Linked DNA regions of Homo sapiens. The protein of the gene in region 2 interacts with the protein of the main gene of each other region in a pairwise test. Each region holds a gene or a part of one and is shown on either strand. Other genes may lie near its edges.

Region 1 (7,568 bases), on a different chromosome or scaffold from region 2:
ATTCTAATTGAACAGTTGGATAATAGATAATTTTATTTTCCTTTTATACGTTACCGTATTTTCCAAATTTTCCACAGCGTCTTTTAAAAAATTGTTAATTTAATTAAAGCCTATATAAATAGGGGATTTGTACTTACTAAACTTGAGGCCCAGTTTCCTTATCTACAAGCAGGACAAGAATTCTTCCCTTTCAAGGTTACTGTTAAAATCAACGTAGAACCTGACATATCAGTTGACATGTGTCATTAATTATTATACTATAGTCAAATTAGAGAACATAGTGTCTTTAATGTGAACATAGAGATGTTTTCCCCTCTACTAAGTGATTCTAAACAACTGCACTTTGACGTTGTGTAATAATTCAAAATGTTTTTCTGTCTCTCCCATCCCCACTGCCATGCTGTAACTTACTTCCTCTACTTGCTTGCCCACCCCTTCTACATTCAGAGGGCTTAGAAATCAGGCAGTCTAGAGGCTTGTAGACTCACAAACATGGGTTGTTTGGCCCACGCACTGATACAATATTTGAATAAGTAGCCAAAGGATAAAATTCAGGAGACTTCATATAAAAATCCAGATTTCTAGCTTTGGAAAAATAGGAAGATTTGGTGTCATCAAATGATATGTGCCCTTTAGATGCCCACAGTTCTCACTTCTCCCTAATGACTCCCAGGCACTGACACTGAAGGTCAGCTGCCATATATCATGACACTGGGGCTGTCTTATTTTACTCCAGGCTTAATTCTCTGTTCAGCCTTATTTGATTTTATGATCCATTACCTACCTCTATCAGTCAGGGTCCTTTCATCAAAGAGAAAGCATAAAGTAATTTGAAGAGAGAAAGTTTAACATAAAGAATACCTACAAAAGGGGGCTGGGCATGGTGGCTCATACCTGTAATCCCAGCACTTCCGGAGGCCAAGGCGGGCTGATCAACTGAGGTCAGGAGTTTGAGAACAGCCTGGCCAACATGGCAAAACCCTGTCTCTACCAAAAATACAAAAATTAGCCGGGCGTGTTGGTAGGCAGCCGTAATCTCAGCTACTTGGGAGGCTGAGGCAGGAGAATCACTTGAACCCAAAGAGAGAGGTTGTGGTGAGCCAAGATCATACCACTGCACTCCTGCCTGGGCAACAGAGCAAGACTCCATCTCAAAATAAGAAAGAAAGAAAAAAGGAATACCTATAAAAGCATAAAAGGGGACTAGAATGATGAGGAATTGACTAAGAGAGAACCGTAAAGAATATAATAGCAGGGCCGGGTGCGGTGGCTCATGCCTGTAATCCCAGCACTTTGGGAGGCCGGATTCACCTGAGGTCGGGAGTTCAAGACTAGCCTGACCAACACGGAAAAACCCTGTCTCTACTAAAACTACAAAACTAGCCAGGCATGGTGGCAGGCGCCTGTAATCCCAGCTACTTGGGAGGCTGAGGCAGGAAAATCTCTTGAACCTGAGAGGAGGAGGTTGCAGTGAGCCGAGATCGTGCCATTGCACTCCAGCCTGGGCAACAACAGCAAAATTCTGTCTCAAAATAAAAAAAAAAAGAAAGAAAATTGGCCGGGCGCAGTGGCTCACGCCTGTAATCCCAGCACTTTGGGAGGCCTAGGCGGGCAGACCACCTGAGGTAAGGAGTTTGAGACCAACATGGAGAAACCCTGTCTCTAACTAAAAATACAAAATTAGTGGGGCGTGGTGGTGCATGCCTGTAATCCCAGCTACTTGGGAGGCTGAGGCAGGAGAATCACTTGAACCTGGGAGGCGGAGGTTATGGTGAGTCAAGATCATGCCATTGCAGTCCAGCCTGGGCAACAAGAGTGAAATTTGGAAGGAAGGAAAGAAGAAAGGAAGGAAGAAAGGAAGGAAGGAAGGAAGGAAGGAAGGGAAGGAAGGGAAGGAAGGAAAGGAAAGAAAGGAAGGAAGGAAATTAACGTCAGATAAATACAGGGTTTGCAATAGATAGTTTGATGTAATTATCTATTAGTTACCCTCAAGACCTTTTCATTTAAAAATGAATTTCCATGTAAGAATTTCCAGGGCTGGGTGTGGTGGCTCATGCCTGTAATCCCAGAACTTTGGGAGGCCGAGGCAGGCAGATCTCAAGGCCAGGAGATCCAGATCATCCTGGCTAACATGGTGAAACCTTGTCTCTACTAAAAATACAAAAAATTAGCTGGTTATGGTGGCACGCACCTGTAATCCCATCTACTGGGGGGGCTGAGGCAGGAGAATTGCTTGAACCTGGGAAGGGGAGGTTGCAGTGAGCTGAGATCACGCCACTGCACTCCAGCCTGGGCGACAGAGCAAGACTCCATCTCAAAAAAAAAAAAAAAAAAAACAAAGAATTTCCAGTCTAACTAATATTTATTTCCATTTTATTTCAATAAGTTAAAAACTGAATATTAGTATTCAAGGAAGACTGAGATTTCTGTAATTTCATTATAGGTTTTAAGAAATACCAGTACTCATACTTAGTACTACTACTTTTTTTTTTTTTTTTTAAGACAGTCTCGCTCTGTTGCCCAGGCTGGAGTGCCATGGTACAATCTCAGCTCACTGCAATCTCCGACTCCAAGGTTCAAGCAATTCTCCTGCCTCAGCCTCCCGAGTAGCTGGGATTACAGGCGTGAGCCACTGCGCTCAGCCCAGTGTGGAATTCCATACTGAGCTGAAGGGGATCTTATCATTCAACAAAAGTCTCATCATTAAATTCTTTAATTAGAGGAGAGGTTAAGACTATCATATACAGAAACATTCTGAATCCATTTCATGTCATCTTCTCTTGAAAAGGATGTCACTTCTTGAACAGCACAATTTACGACTAACCTGTGAGGATGTCAAGTGTGAAATTCATCTTGGATAGTTCACAATAGGAACTACTTCAGATTCCAAATTGGCAGGTGTTAATTTAAAAGGCATCTAAGACATATTAACTTATTTCTTATAGGTTTCAATGGTATTTGGAGACTGTTTACCTCTGGAGTTTCAAGTTCTACTCCACTGACTAGGCAGAAAGCATGAGATATACTGTGGAAGGTATGAAAGATGTTCCTAATTTGGGGAGCTAAAGGCATCAATTTAGGTAGATCCTATTTTCATTCCTTCTTTACACAGCATTCATTAGGAAAGGCAACATTTAGTAGTCAAGTGACTGATTTGGCAACAGGAATCAAAATGACTTAGTTCCAAATCACACCTCTACCAGAGTCTGTGACCTCTTCAAGCCTGAGTTTGCTCATTTGTAAAGTGAGGTTTAACAGTATCTCATAGTCTTGGTCCTGAGGATTAATAAGATAGTGCATATCATTGCCTGGTATACAGAAAGAGCTCAATAAACATTATTAATATTATTATGCAGATAAGTCTTAATTATGTTTATCAATATAGTATCCTGGAGAAAACAAAGTTTTTCAGGAAAATAATATTGAATCATATTGCAACCGGATTTTATTTGATCCAAACTTAGTTTTATCAAGGATCCTTATGAAACAATAATCTGTAGTTCAATCTGAGAAAAGACAAGCTGATGATTTCTTTCCAGATATGGATAAATTTACTGAGATTGCAAAGTTTAAAATTTTATAATTTACGTTCATTCATCTGAGACAGGGTCTCACTTGTTGCCCAGGTTGGTCTCAAACTCCTGGCCTCAAGCAAACTTCCAGCTTCAGCCTCCTAAAGCACTGGGATTACAGGTATAAGCCACCATGCCCGGCTCAAATCTTAGAATTTACAAATGAAATTCCAAACAGGTATAAAATCTCTTGTATTACCATAAGAGGGTAAGAGCAATGTACCAGACAATATAAAAGTCCTTAAAAATGTAACATTGTTAAATCTACTTCAAAGAGAACCTATTGTAGAGGCAGAAGCATACTGAATAAATCTGTTCTTCAGACACAATAAACCTTTGATTTGCGGGTAACTCAAACCCCTAAAGATACTTATTATGAATGAGTCAGTTATTATAATCAGACACTGATATGGTTTGGTTGTGTCCCCACCCAAATCTCATCTTGAGTTGTAGTTCCCATGCGAGGGACCTGGTGGGAGGTCATGCTGTTCTTGTGATAGTGAGTTCTTGCTGTTCTTGTGACAGTGAGTTCTCACGAGATCTGATGGTTTTATAAGGGGCTTTCCCCCTTTTGCTCAGCACTTCTCCATCCTGCCGCCCCATGAAGAAGGATGTGTTTGCCTCCTCTTCTGCCATGATTGTAAGTTTCCTTAGGCCTCCCCAGCTATGCTGAATTGTGAGTCAATCAAACCTCTTTCGTTTATAAATTACCCAGTCTCAGAAATGTCTTTATTAGCAGTGTAAGAATGGACTAATACAGACACAAAACTTTAAAACACGAAAGAACAAAACAAAGCTTAAAATGAGAGTAAGTATAATGAAGAAAAGAGAGTTAAATACTAAGAAAAATAGTATAAAGCAGGGAGGGTAGAGGAAAAGCCCTGGCCTCTCCAAATAGAATGGTAAATAGTAATGCAAACCAAACCCCACAACAAGACCTTTGGATTCCAAACAAATTGCCGAGAAGTTTCCATGACTGCGAAGGGGAGGAGGGGGAGGAGCTTCCCATTATTAAGTCTGTTTCCAAATAAAAGGTTTAACAATTATAAATTAGAACAAAGTTATAAAAATGAAAATCTTTACAAGTTTTTCTAATCAGTATTGAGAATCTGCCTCAATATTTTTGAAAGTTTTTATTATGTTCTAGACATAGTGTTAAGCCTGTGCTTATATTATTTCAACCTCACAACAATCCTAGAAGGTCATTTAACAGAAGAGATTTGGATTTTAATAGCTTGTTCAAGTAGTAACATTGACTTTGAATGATACTGTCTCAGACAGTCCCTTTTGAAATCAGTGCATTATTAATCATATTCATCTTTAAAATCATCCTAAGAATAGCACTACTTTCATCTGCCAACTTATGGATTTATGCTGTTGGTTATTTTAGGGAGTAGGTCTCCTTATGTTGCCAGTGGCTATTCACAGGCACACTCATAGCTCACTGCAACCCTGAACTCCTGGGCTCAAGTGATCCTCCCACATCAGCATTTGGAGTAGCTGGGACTAACCAGTGTGTGCCACTACATCCAGTTTTGCTGTTTTTGTTTGTTTGTTTTTTGTTTTTTTGAGAGGGAGTTTTGCTCTTGCTGCCCAGGCTGGAGTGCAATGGCGCAATGTTGGTTCACTGCAACCTCCGCCTCCCAGGTTCAAGCGATTCTCCTGCCTCAGCCCCCCAAGTAGCTGGGATTACAGGCACGTGCCACCACGCCCAAATAATTTTGTATTTTCAGTAGACACAGGGTTTCTCCGTGTTGGTCAGGGTGGTCTCGAACTCCCGACCTCAGATGATTCGCCTGCCTCGGCCTCCCAAAGTGCTGGGATTACAGGCGTGAGCCACCACGCCTGGCCTGCTTTGCTGTTTTAATACATGAAAAATGTGGCATTATAACTCAAACTGGTCTGCAATAAGAAAAGTATGGCAACTGAGATAAAGCCTTCAGAAATTTTTAGAGCAATATGATTATTACAATTATAGTAGTAATTTTTTATCTGTTGAATTTAACAATACATTTGGGCTTGTATTTTCTATGTCTTTTTTTCACTTCATTTTCCTACTATTTCATTTTTATAAGTGTATTGGTATGGATTGAAATAAAAATTAAAAACAAAAACTGATCCTTTACCAGGCAGTTTGAGGAATATTGCTGTAGAGCTCTGAGCCAAAAACAGCTTGCTCTCTGTTACCAGCTCTGTGACAAAGAGGAGACATACTCAGGTGAGTAACAACCCTCAGATAATCAATCTGAAATCCCACTTGAGCCATCTGTTTTTGTATCATAGCTCCATTTATCAACTGCAGCAGCACTGAGTTTATACTAGGTAATATAGGCTCTCAACCTACTTATGTAACATTGTTATTTAGAGCCAAAGAAAACTACTCATTAGCAATTCAATCGAAAAAACATAAGACAGTGTTAACTATAAACCAACGGGTCTCACTCCCTTACCAAACAGGGCTTCCTTTGTGTAAAGCATGCTTTGGCCTCCTTTATTTATTTATTTTTATTTATTTATTTTTATTTTTTTCTGAGACAAAGTTTTGCTCTTGTTCCCCAGGCTGGAGTGCAATGGTGGGACTCGGCTCACTGCAACCTCCGCCTCCTGGGTTCAAGCAATTCTCCTGTCTCAGCCTCCTGAGTAGCTGGGATTACAGGCACATGCCACCACGCCCAGCTAATTTTTGTATTTTTAGTAGAGATGGGGTTTCGCCATGTTGGCCAGGCTGGTCTCGAACTCCTGACCTCAGGTAATCCGCCCACCTCAGCCTCCCAAAGTGCTGGGATTACAGGCGTGAGCCACTTAGCACCTGGCTGGCCTCCTTTAAAAGTTAAAAGTGTTTCTCTTTCCTGTATACTGAAAAAATTTACATCCTGATTATCATAGTTACTTATAATTGCATTTGAGAATCGGATTTTTTTTCCTTTGTTTTATAAATTTTTAAGGCATGAAAGTACAGTTGCCAGGTCAAAGGGCAAGGAAGAAGGCCACAAAAGTATCAAGAAAGGTAGTTTTGGGGTGAGGAGAAACTGACAGAGAAATCAATGTCACATAAACCTCTTGGTGGGCACATCTGGCAGGTAGACCCCACCACTACTGCAATTTCAGACTACCTAATTTTAACTCGTTTTTAAATACTAATCTTGCCATAATTGATCATCTGACTTTTATTCCTGTTCTGAGATATTTTTAGAAAAAGTATTGAATGAGAAAGCAGCAGCAAGATTAAAAACATGAATAAAAAGCATATCTTTTCATGTAAATCAAGCTTGTCCAACTCATGGCTCGTGGGCCGCATGCAACCCAGGAGCACTTTGAATGAAGCCTTACACAAATTCATAAACTTTCTTAAAACATTATGAGTTTTTTTTTGCATTTTTTTTTTTTAGCTCATCACCTATCTTAGTGTTAGTGTATTTTATGTGTGGCTTGAGATAATTCTTCTTCTGATGTGGCCCAGGGAAGCCAAAAGATTGGACACCCCTGATGTAAACGAAAGTGAACTGTAAAACAGTAACACTAGCCTCTAAGAAAGCCAGACTTCCTTAAAAAGGCAAGTCATTTATCCAGTGTAGGAGTTTGGGGAATTATTTTCTAAGGAAAGAAATGGTGCTTTCCAGTCCCCCGTGAATGAAATTTATTTTTACAAATTTACCATCTCACTAGTTTCATTACAACATTGGTCCATAATAATGGCATAATTTACCTAGAAAATATGTTTAGTTCCTAGGAGATAGAAATCCTAGTTGAATTCTAGGATGTCTTTAAGTTATATATAACTTTCATTTTTTATTCTAATAGCTCAAAATGCATTGCATCTACTCTAATAATAAACAGATATTATGAATGCTGATTTTAGCATTTTAAGACCTACAGCTGGAAAAGACCATCTGACCGTCAATTTAAGAAAGCCACAAATGACATGACATACTAATTATCTGTATTAATGACCCAGTTATTAACACCACTCCTGTAAACATTTCCTTCTAGTGAAAA
Region 2 (7,568 bases):
GCTGGGACTACAGGCGCCCGCCACCATGCCCAGCTAATTTTTTTGTATTTTTTTTAGTAGAGACGGGGTTTCACCGTGTTAGCCAGGATGGTCTCGATCTCCTGACCTTGTGATCCACCTGCCTCGGCCTCCCAAAGTGCTGGGATTACAGGCGTGAGCCACCGCACCCGGCCAGAAAGAAGAATCTTAAGACAGATTCAGTTATTAAATATTGAGTGCCTACTATCTCCTGGATGCTATTCTAGGCATTATAATACATCAGTGAACCAACAGACAAAAATCTCTGCCCTCCTGGGAGTTTATAATACTGTGTGTGTGCTGGTGAGTGTGAAGGTAGAGAGATAAAGAACAGTGATGTATTTTAAGGGTACAATAAGTAAGTTAAATGGTACATGAAATAACATGAATGAGTATGTTGCTTTTCTTAATTATTTGGGACAAAGGTAATGTCTCTAAGGATACTACTTCTTAAAAAATTTTTTCTAAAAAGATACTCTTCTCATGCCTTTTCCTATCTAAGGATACTTCTACAGACAGAGTACTTGACTCTGTGCAGTGGAAGGGGAAATCTGATCTAACATTATAGGTAGATTGATTTGAATCTTTTAGGGGAAGGTTAAGAGGAAGACATCAATAAAAATAGCAATATTTATTAAAGAAGGTTGTCTAATTTTAAGCTGAGGAAAAAGGGAAGAAAGAAAAGCAGACAAGGAGACAGGTTTACTATTAGGGTAGAAAAAAATCGGTGTGTGTGTGGCTTTCCCACTATTATTTCAGAATGGTTAAAATGTTTATATTACTAATATTGTTTACCCACAGAATGAGAAATGTTTGTTACCCTAAGCTACATCTGGATGTACATCAAGTGACATGCCTTTACAAAGCATGTCACTATGATACGATGGAACACAGCAAACATATCCCACGGTCTTAGTTTAGTGAAGGAACTCAGATTCTTTCCTTTCAGAAACATAAATGGATTTTAGCTTTCTTTTTCTTTTTTGCTTCCACATAGATACAGGGAAAGAGCTTTATCTTTACAGAGCTTGGTTGGATTCTAGGGCCTTAGGCAAGTATTTTACCTTCTCTAACACAGTTCCCTCATCTATGAAATGTGGTTAATAACAACCTCTCAAGATTGTCTGCCATGAGATAACTACTGCAAATTACCTTGCACAGGTCCTGATCAATAGCAGGCATTAAACAATTCAGTTTCCTTAATCATATCAATACATTAAAGTTAAGAAGGCAATGCAAAAGAATGGAAAGAACACTGAACTTGAAGTCAAAAGACTTGGGTTCAAATTCCAGCTGTTACTTACTCTCTTAAGCAACTATTACTTATTAACCTCCCTACCTCTGAGAATTACAAAATGGGTATAGTAATTCCTCTATCCCAGGATTATAAGAATTAAATCATATAGATAAGTGCTTTAAAGTGTGAAGTTCCATAAAAAAATCACTCATCGGCCAGGCGCAGTGGATCATGCCTGTAATCCCAGCACTTTGGGAGGCCAAGGCGGGCAGATCATGAGGTCAGGAGTTCGAGACCAGCCTGGCCAATATGGTGAACCCTATCTCTACTAAAAATACAGAATTAGCTGGGTGTGGTGGCATGCGCCTGTAGTCCCACTTACTCTGGAGGCTGAAACAAAAGAATCGTTTGAACCTGGGAGGCGGAGGTTGCAGTGAGCTGAAATCACGCCACCACACTCTAGCCTGGGTGACAGAGAGAGACTCCATCTCAAAAATCAATCAATCAATCAATCATCATAAATTGAAAAAATCTGAGTATGTTTAAATATATACTAGTTTTAAATCTTTCTGAAATGAAAGGTCTGATAAGTTGCATATCTTACCACTACAGATAGGGTACTTATGGCATAATACGTTTTACTATAATTTATAGAAAGGCACTGCATTCAAGAGGTATAAAGCAGGACACATAAAACTTATGGATTACTAGAGAAGTTCTTGTTATGAAATAAAATAATCTGTTATTTTTCCTTAGGTATTAAGGACTGCAAGAAGCTAAATGACAGCTCTCTTCTAGAAACAACTCTAAAGATTAAAGAAAAACCTATTTTCAGATACATTGAAAATAATTTATTATTCACCATATTTTATTATTTGAAAAAATCCTGTATGGTATTAAATCTTTTTTTTTTTTTTTGAGACAAACTCTTGTTGCCCAGGCTGGAGTGCAATGGCACGATCTCGGCTCACCGCAACCTCCACCTCTCAGGTTCAAGTGATTCTCCTGCCTCAGGCTCCTGAGTAGCTGGGATTACAGGCATGCGCCACCACGCTCGGCTAATTTTGTATTTTTAGTAGAGACAGGGTTTCTCCATGTTGGTCAGGCTGGTCTGGAACTTCCGACCTCAGGTGATCCACCCGCCTCGGCCTCCCAAAGTGCTGGGATTACAGGTGTGAGCCACCGCATCTGGCCAGTATTAAATCTTAACCATAGTAACTAGCACTGTAATATTAAAAAACCTGTGTTCGTTGATTGAACAAAATACTTAATTTAAATGGGAGGAAATATATTCTTTGAAGTAGGAAAAACATCATGAAATTCTGAGTGATTATGGCAGGAAAATAGAGGACAGACGCAATAAACTTGACCCAAATGCCAAAATCTAAGATTATAAACTGGATAAGTAGAAGCAGCCGAAGTTTTCCTGTTTCATTCTTCCCTTCTAAGAACTGGAAGTAGAGAGGTATTAACATAGAAACTTTGGGGATAGACACACTTGTAATTATCATGGAATCATACAAGGGCAGAGAACTTCACTGTTCTTTCCTTTCTTTTTTTGAGACAGAGTCTTGCTCTGTTGCCAGGCTGGAGTGCAGTGGCGTGATCTTGGCTCACTGCAACCTCCACCTCCCAGGTTCAAGAGACTCTCCTGCGTCAGCCTCCCAAGTAGCTGGGATTACAAGCGTGCGCCACCACGCCCAGCTAATTTTTGCGTTTTCAGTAGAGACAGGGTTTCACCATGTTGGCCAGGATGGTCTCGATCTCCTGACCTCATGATCTGCCCACTTCAGCCTCCCAAAGTGCTGGGATTACAGGCGTGAGCCACCACGCTTGGTTGTTCTTTCCTTTCTTTTGGTTAATAACGTTCTTTGTTACAAACCATACTGATATAAAACAAATTCTTTCCAGGTTAATTTTTATTTTATTCTATTGAGATCTGCCCTTAGAAGGAAGTAATTCATATCACAGTTCTAGAAGCACATATCCATTTTCCCTTCGTTTAAATTGTTAACCTTTTCTCTCCTCTCTATTCATATATGTGTGCACACACACATACACATGCACACACCCTCCATCCTAAAGATTTTGTTAAGAGTGGCTTTGAGGACTAGCAGATTCTCACTTCTCTGACCACAACCCACATCTCCTCGCCTCTTCAGAGACCCTCTTCTTCCCCATTCTCCTCCCACACTAACATCTGGCTGTTTTTCGGTAAAGGATATTGGTAACATGGGAGGAACTGCTTTACACACTCTATATATATAGAGTATGTGAAAGAAAGTAAGAATTAGTGAATGGCAATATTCTCTCAGCTTGTGGTTGGTAAAACAAAACAAAACAAACAAAAAACTACATTTTTTGGGCTGTGTATATAAAAATGATGTGCATCTTTCTGCACACAAACACTATTTTTGTTTGGTGAAAGTCCTGGATAAATAGTTAAACAGGACAAAAAATAAAGAAAGAAAGAGAGAAAGGAAGGAAAGAAGGAAGAAAGGGAAGGAGGGAGGAAGAAAGAAGAAAAGAAAGAAAACAAGGAGATCACTAATTCCAAATGACATTCTATGTGGTATTACCTAAGTAAGCTACCAACCAAAAAAGCAGAAAGAATAACTAAATAATTCACTTAGGAATGAGCATGTTTCATTGTCTTGTAATGGGTTCATCATCATTAGGCAGTGAATCAGGGGGTATAATTACCTGGATATGCATTTTTATTATTGCTTTTCCAATTAGGGTTGCACCAAAGAAGGTCCAAAAAGGTACCAGAAAGTGTCCACACGTTATTCCAGCCAGATCAAATAAAGGATTTGGAATCTATAGAGAGAAAAAGAAGGACTTCCATATTATAATCCAAAGAACAATTTAATTTTATCACCCATTGATATGTGGTATTCTGCTTTCAGCCTGCTTACACTGCAAAGCAATATATGGGTTCCTTGATCACTACTGGATTGTTCAAAAGGAGGTTAGGCAAACATCCTAATGTGTCTAGAAGCTGGGTCTCATATTCACCTTAGGTGTTCAATCTGCTCACAGCAAACCAAGGTGTCCTTTTGCTTATATTACTCATGGCTAAGGCACTGTGTGTGTGTTTGTGTGTGTGCCCATCACATGAGAACTGGATAAAGTAAGTGGACCTGCAGGAATTTAATCCCGTTCAGTTGATTCCTGGATATTTGGTGGCTGTTTTCTAAGGTGAGGTATGAGTGAAGAAAGAGCCTTAAGATTGTTTCAGCAGTTAGGGTTCTAAAATCTTTAGCTTGAAATGTGAATATTATCTGGAAAGCACTCATATCATTAGCAAATATTTTAATAAATTCTCAAATACATTTATGGGTGGATGTGCTGTTATTCTCAACATAAAATATTAATAATTTGTATTTTATTTTACGAGAGACCAAGTCTGAGGGCTATGTGACACAATTTATAAAGAAGATCAAGTGTGGAAATATGAGATCACACAGATTCAGATGTTTTGAATACTCAGTCCCAGACAAAGAAGTAATTCACAACAAATACCTTTCCCAAACATTCCCACATTTTAAGAATGCTAAAAGACATTTCATGTAAAAATGCAAAGAAGCCACAAGCTGTTTTTGAGCACTTCATCCCTTCTTCTCCTATGAAAGTACTCTGACCTTGTGGCTGTTGGCTGAACCATTAATAAGCCAATTAATTTATATAATTTCATTTTTGAACTTTGAAAGAAAAGCCTAGTTATTTAAAAAATACTTGTCACATATGATCTTTAAAAAAGACATGACTAAATTAGAATTCAAGTATTCCTTTGTTAGTAACACTTGGATTCAATGACTCATTTTTGTTTTTCTCATCCAAATTCAAATGCTTTAGGATTATTTCATCTCTTACAACCATATAATAATATCATTTACACAGCATCACACCTGCTATTTGTTATATTTGCTCATGTGACTCTCATAATTCTATGAGTTATAACTTTTTTTTCCTTTATCATAAGGTTCCAACTCATGTTGAAATGAAAATGAATTTAAAGTATTTAAGATATGTAGGCTGGGCGCAGTGTCTTATGCCTATAATCCCAGCACTTTGGGAGGCCGAGGTGGGTAGATCACTTGAGGTCAGGAGTTCGAGACCAGCCTGGCCAACATGGTGAAACCTTGTCTCTACTAAAAATACAAAAATTAGCTGGGTGTAGTGGTGCATGATTGTAATCCCAGCTACTGGGTAGCCTGAGGCAGGAGAATCGCTTGAACCTGGGAGGTGGAGGTTGCCGTGAGCCAAGATCTCGCCACTGCACTCCAGCCTGGGTGACAGAGGGAGACTCTGTCTCAAAAAAAGAAAAACAAACACAAAAAAAGGATTTAAGATACGTAAATCAGAGTAGCCCTGAGCTAACATCGCTTTAAACAGGTTTTATATAAATTCTTCCTTGTAACTAATACTTGAAACTTTGGAAAAAGACTTCTTATCTATAAATTTGAGGAAAGAATGAAGTCATCCTTATTTGGTTAAATGTAGTTTAATTTGGTTAAATGTAGTATATTCTTCATTGGAAGAATGGATTTTGTCTCTTTTATTCTTACTGATTTAAGCCATTTAGGTCTGAAGTCATCACTACATGATGAAATACTTAAAAGCCAATAAACAAGATGTGAACCTATTCAACAGAAAACAGCTCATTTAATAAGTTGAATTGGGCTGGGTGCAGTAGCTCACACCTGTAATCCCAGTACTTTGGGAGGCCGAGGCGGGCGGATCACGAGGTCAGGAGATCGAGACCATCCCGGCTAAAACGGTGAAACCCCGTCTCTACTAAAAATACAAAAAATTAGCCGGGCGTAGTGGCGGGCGCCTGTAGTCCCAGCTACTTGGGAGGCTGAGGCAGGAGAATGGCGTGAACCCGGGAGGCGGAGCTTGCAGTGAGCCGAGATCCCGCCACTGCACTACCGCCTGGGCGACAGAGCGAGACTCCGTCTCAAAAAAAAAAAAAAAAAAAAAAAAAAAAAAAAAAAAAAAATTAGCTGGGTGTGGTGGCAGTCGCCTGAAATCCCAGCTACTTTGGGAGGCTGAGGCAGGAGAATCGTTTGAACCCGGGAGGTGGAGGTTGCAGTGAGCCGAGATTGTGCCATTGCACTCCAGCCTGGGCCACAAAAGTGAAACTCTTGTCTCAAAAAAAAAAAAAAAAAAAAAAAAAAAAGTTGAATGGGCCAGGTGTAGTGGCTCATGCCTGTAATCCCAGCACTTTGGGAGGCCGAGGCAGGTGGATCACTTGGGCCCAGGAGTTTGAGACTAGCCTGGGCAACATGAGATCCTGCCTCTACTAAAAATATAAAAATTAGCCAGGCGTGGGGGTGCATGCCTGTAGTCCCAGCTACTAGGGAGGCTGAGACAGGAGAATTGCTTGAGCCCAGGAGATGGAGGTTGCAGTGAGCCGAGATCATGCCACTGCACTCCAGCCTGGGTGACAAGAGGGAGACTCCGTCTTAAAAAAAAAAAAAGGTGAATGATTCACAAAATTACATACCCAATAAAAGTGATAGCACTTTTGTTAATTCAGGAGTATATATGGATCAAAATATAACACTACCACTTAGTAAAAGTTCTGTTTTAATACAATTCACTTACTGAAGCACAGGCCAAAATTCCAAAAAATCCAACTTTCTGTACTAGTTTTTGAACTGCCAGTTTGGCCCGGGAGGCAAAGTCCTGTAAAAAGGCAAATTTAGAAACATTAATGAGAAGTAGGAAAAGAAGGAAAGATGGTTCTTTCTAGAGTTTATTAAAGATCTCCCAATCTGATGACACTGATTAATAAGATGAATGATGAAAAAAATTACAGTAGGTTGTTCACTGAAACACAAGTAAAATAATGATAGACTATTACATCCTTAAAGTTAAGCTCTTACCACATTTTAAGAATAAACCAAAACACTGTAAATTTAAATTTAGTATTCTCTCTGGATATTCTAGGGATTAACAAAATACTGTAAACTAACCATGAACCAATTTATTATTTTGGAAACACTGGCCTACAACATCTACCTTTTCCTTTCTTCTATAATTTGCCAGACTTCATGAATACATCTCTGCCGATCACTAGCCAGAAGATGGAAAAAACAGTTATGTGGCAATAAGTAAGCATTCATTATCCCAGAAGCAAAAGAACATCCTACATTTGCACAGCTTGTGCTAGTTTTGTAAAACATTCTCACCATGATTTTATTTGAGCCTTCGATTCTGGTATGTAGGTATAGTGGATATTATTATAACCAATCTATAGACCACAAAACTGCAGCCCAGAAAGGGTAAGTGATCAAGATCATAA

The links.
Region 1: the proteins of VMP1 (region 2) and SLC39A9 interact in binary tests that used the Homo sapiens proteins (3 or more experiments, as listed by UniProt).

The regions. Positions count from the first base shown.
Region 1 is NC_000014.9:69,401,617-69,409,184, reverse strand, and holds part of SLC39A9 (zinc transporter ZIP9), read right to left. Parts: intron 1-7,568. UniProt on the Homo sapiens protein: Transports zinc ions across cell and organelle membranes into the cytoplasm and regulates intracellular zinc homeostasis. Participates in the zinc ions efflux out of the secretory compartments.
Region 2 is NC_000017.11:59,808,177-59,815,744, reverse strand, and holds part of VMP1 (vacuole membrane protein 1), read right to left. Parts: intron 6,950-7,568; coding exon 6,869-6,949; intron 4,076-6,868; coding exon 3,959-4,075; intron 1-3,958. UniProt on the Homo sapiens protein: Phospholipid scramblase involved in lipid homeostasis and membrane dynamics processes. Has phospholipid scramblase activity toward cholesterol and phosphatidylserine, as well as phosphatidylethanolamine and phosphatidylcholine.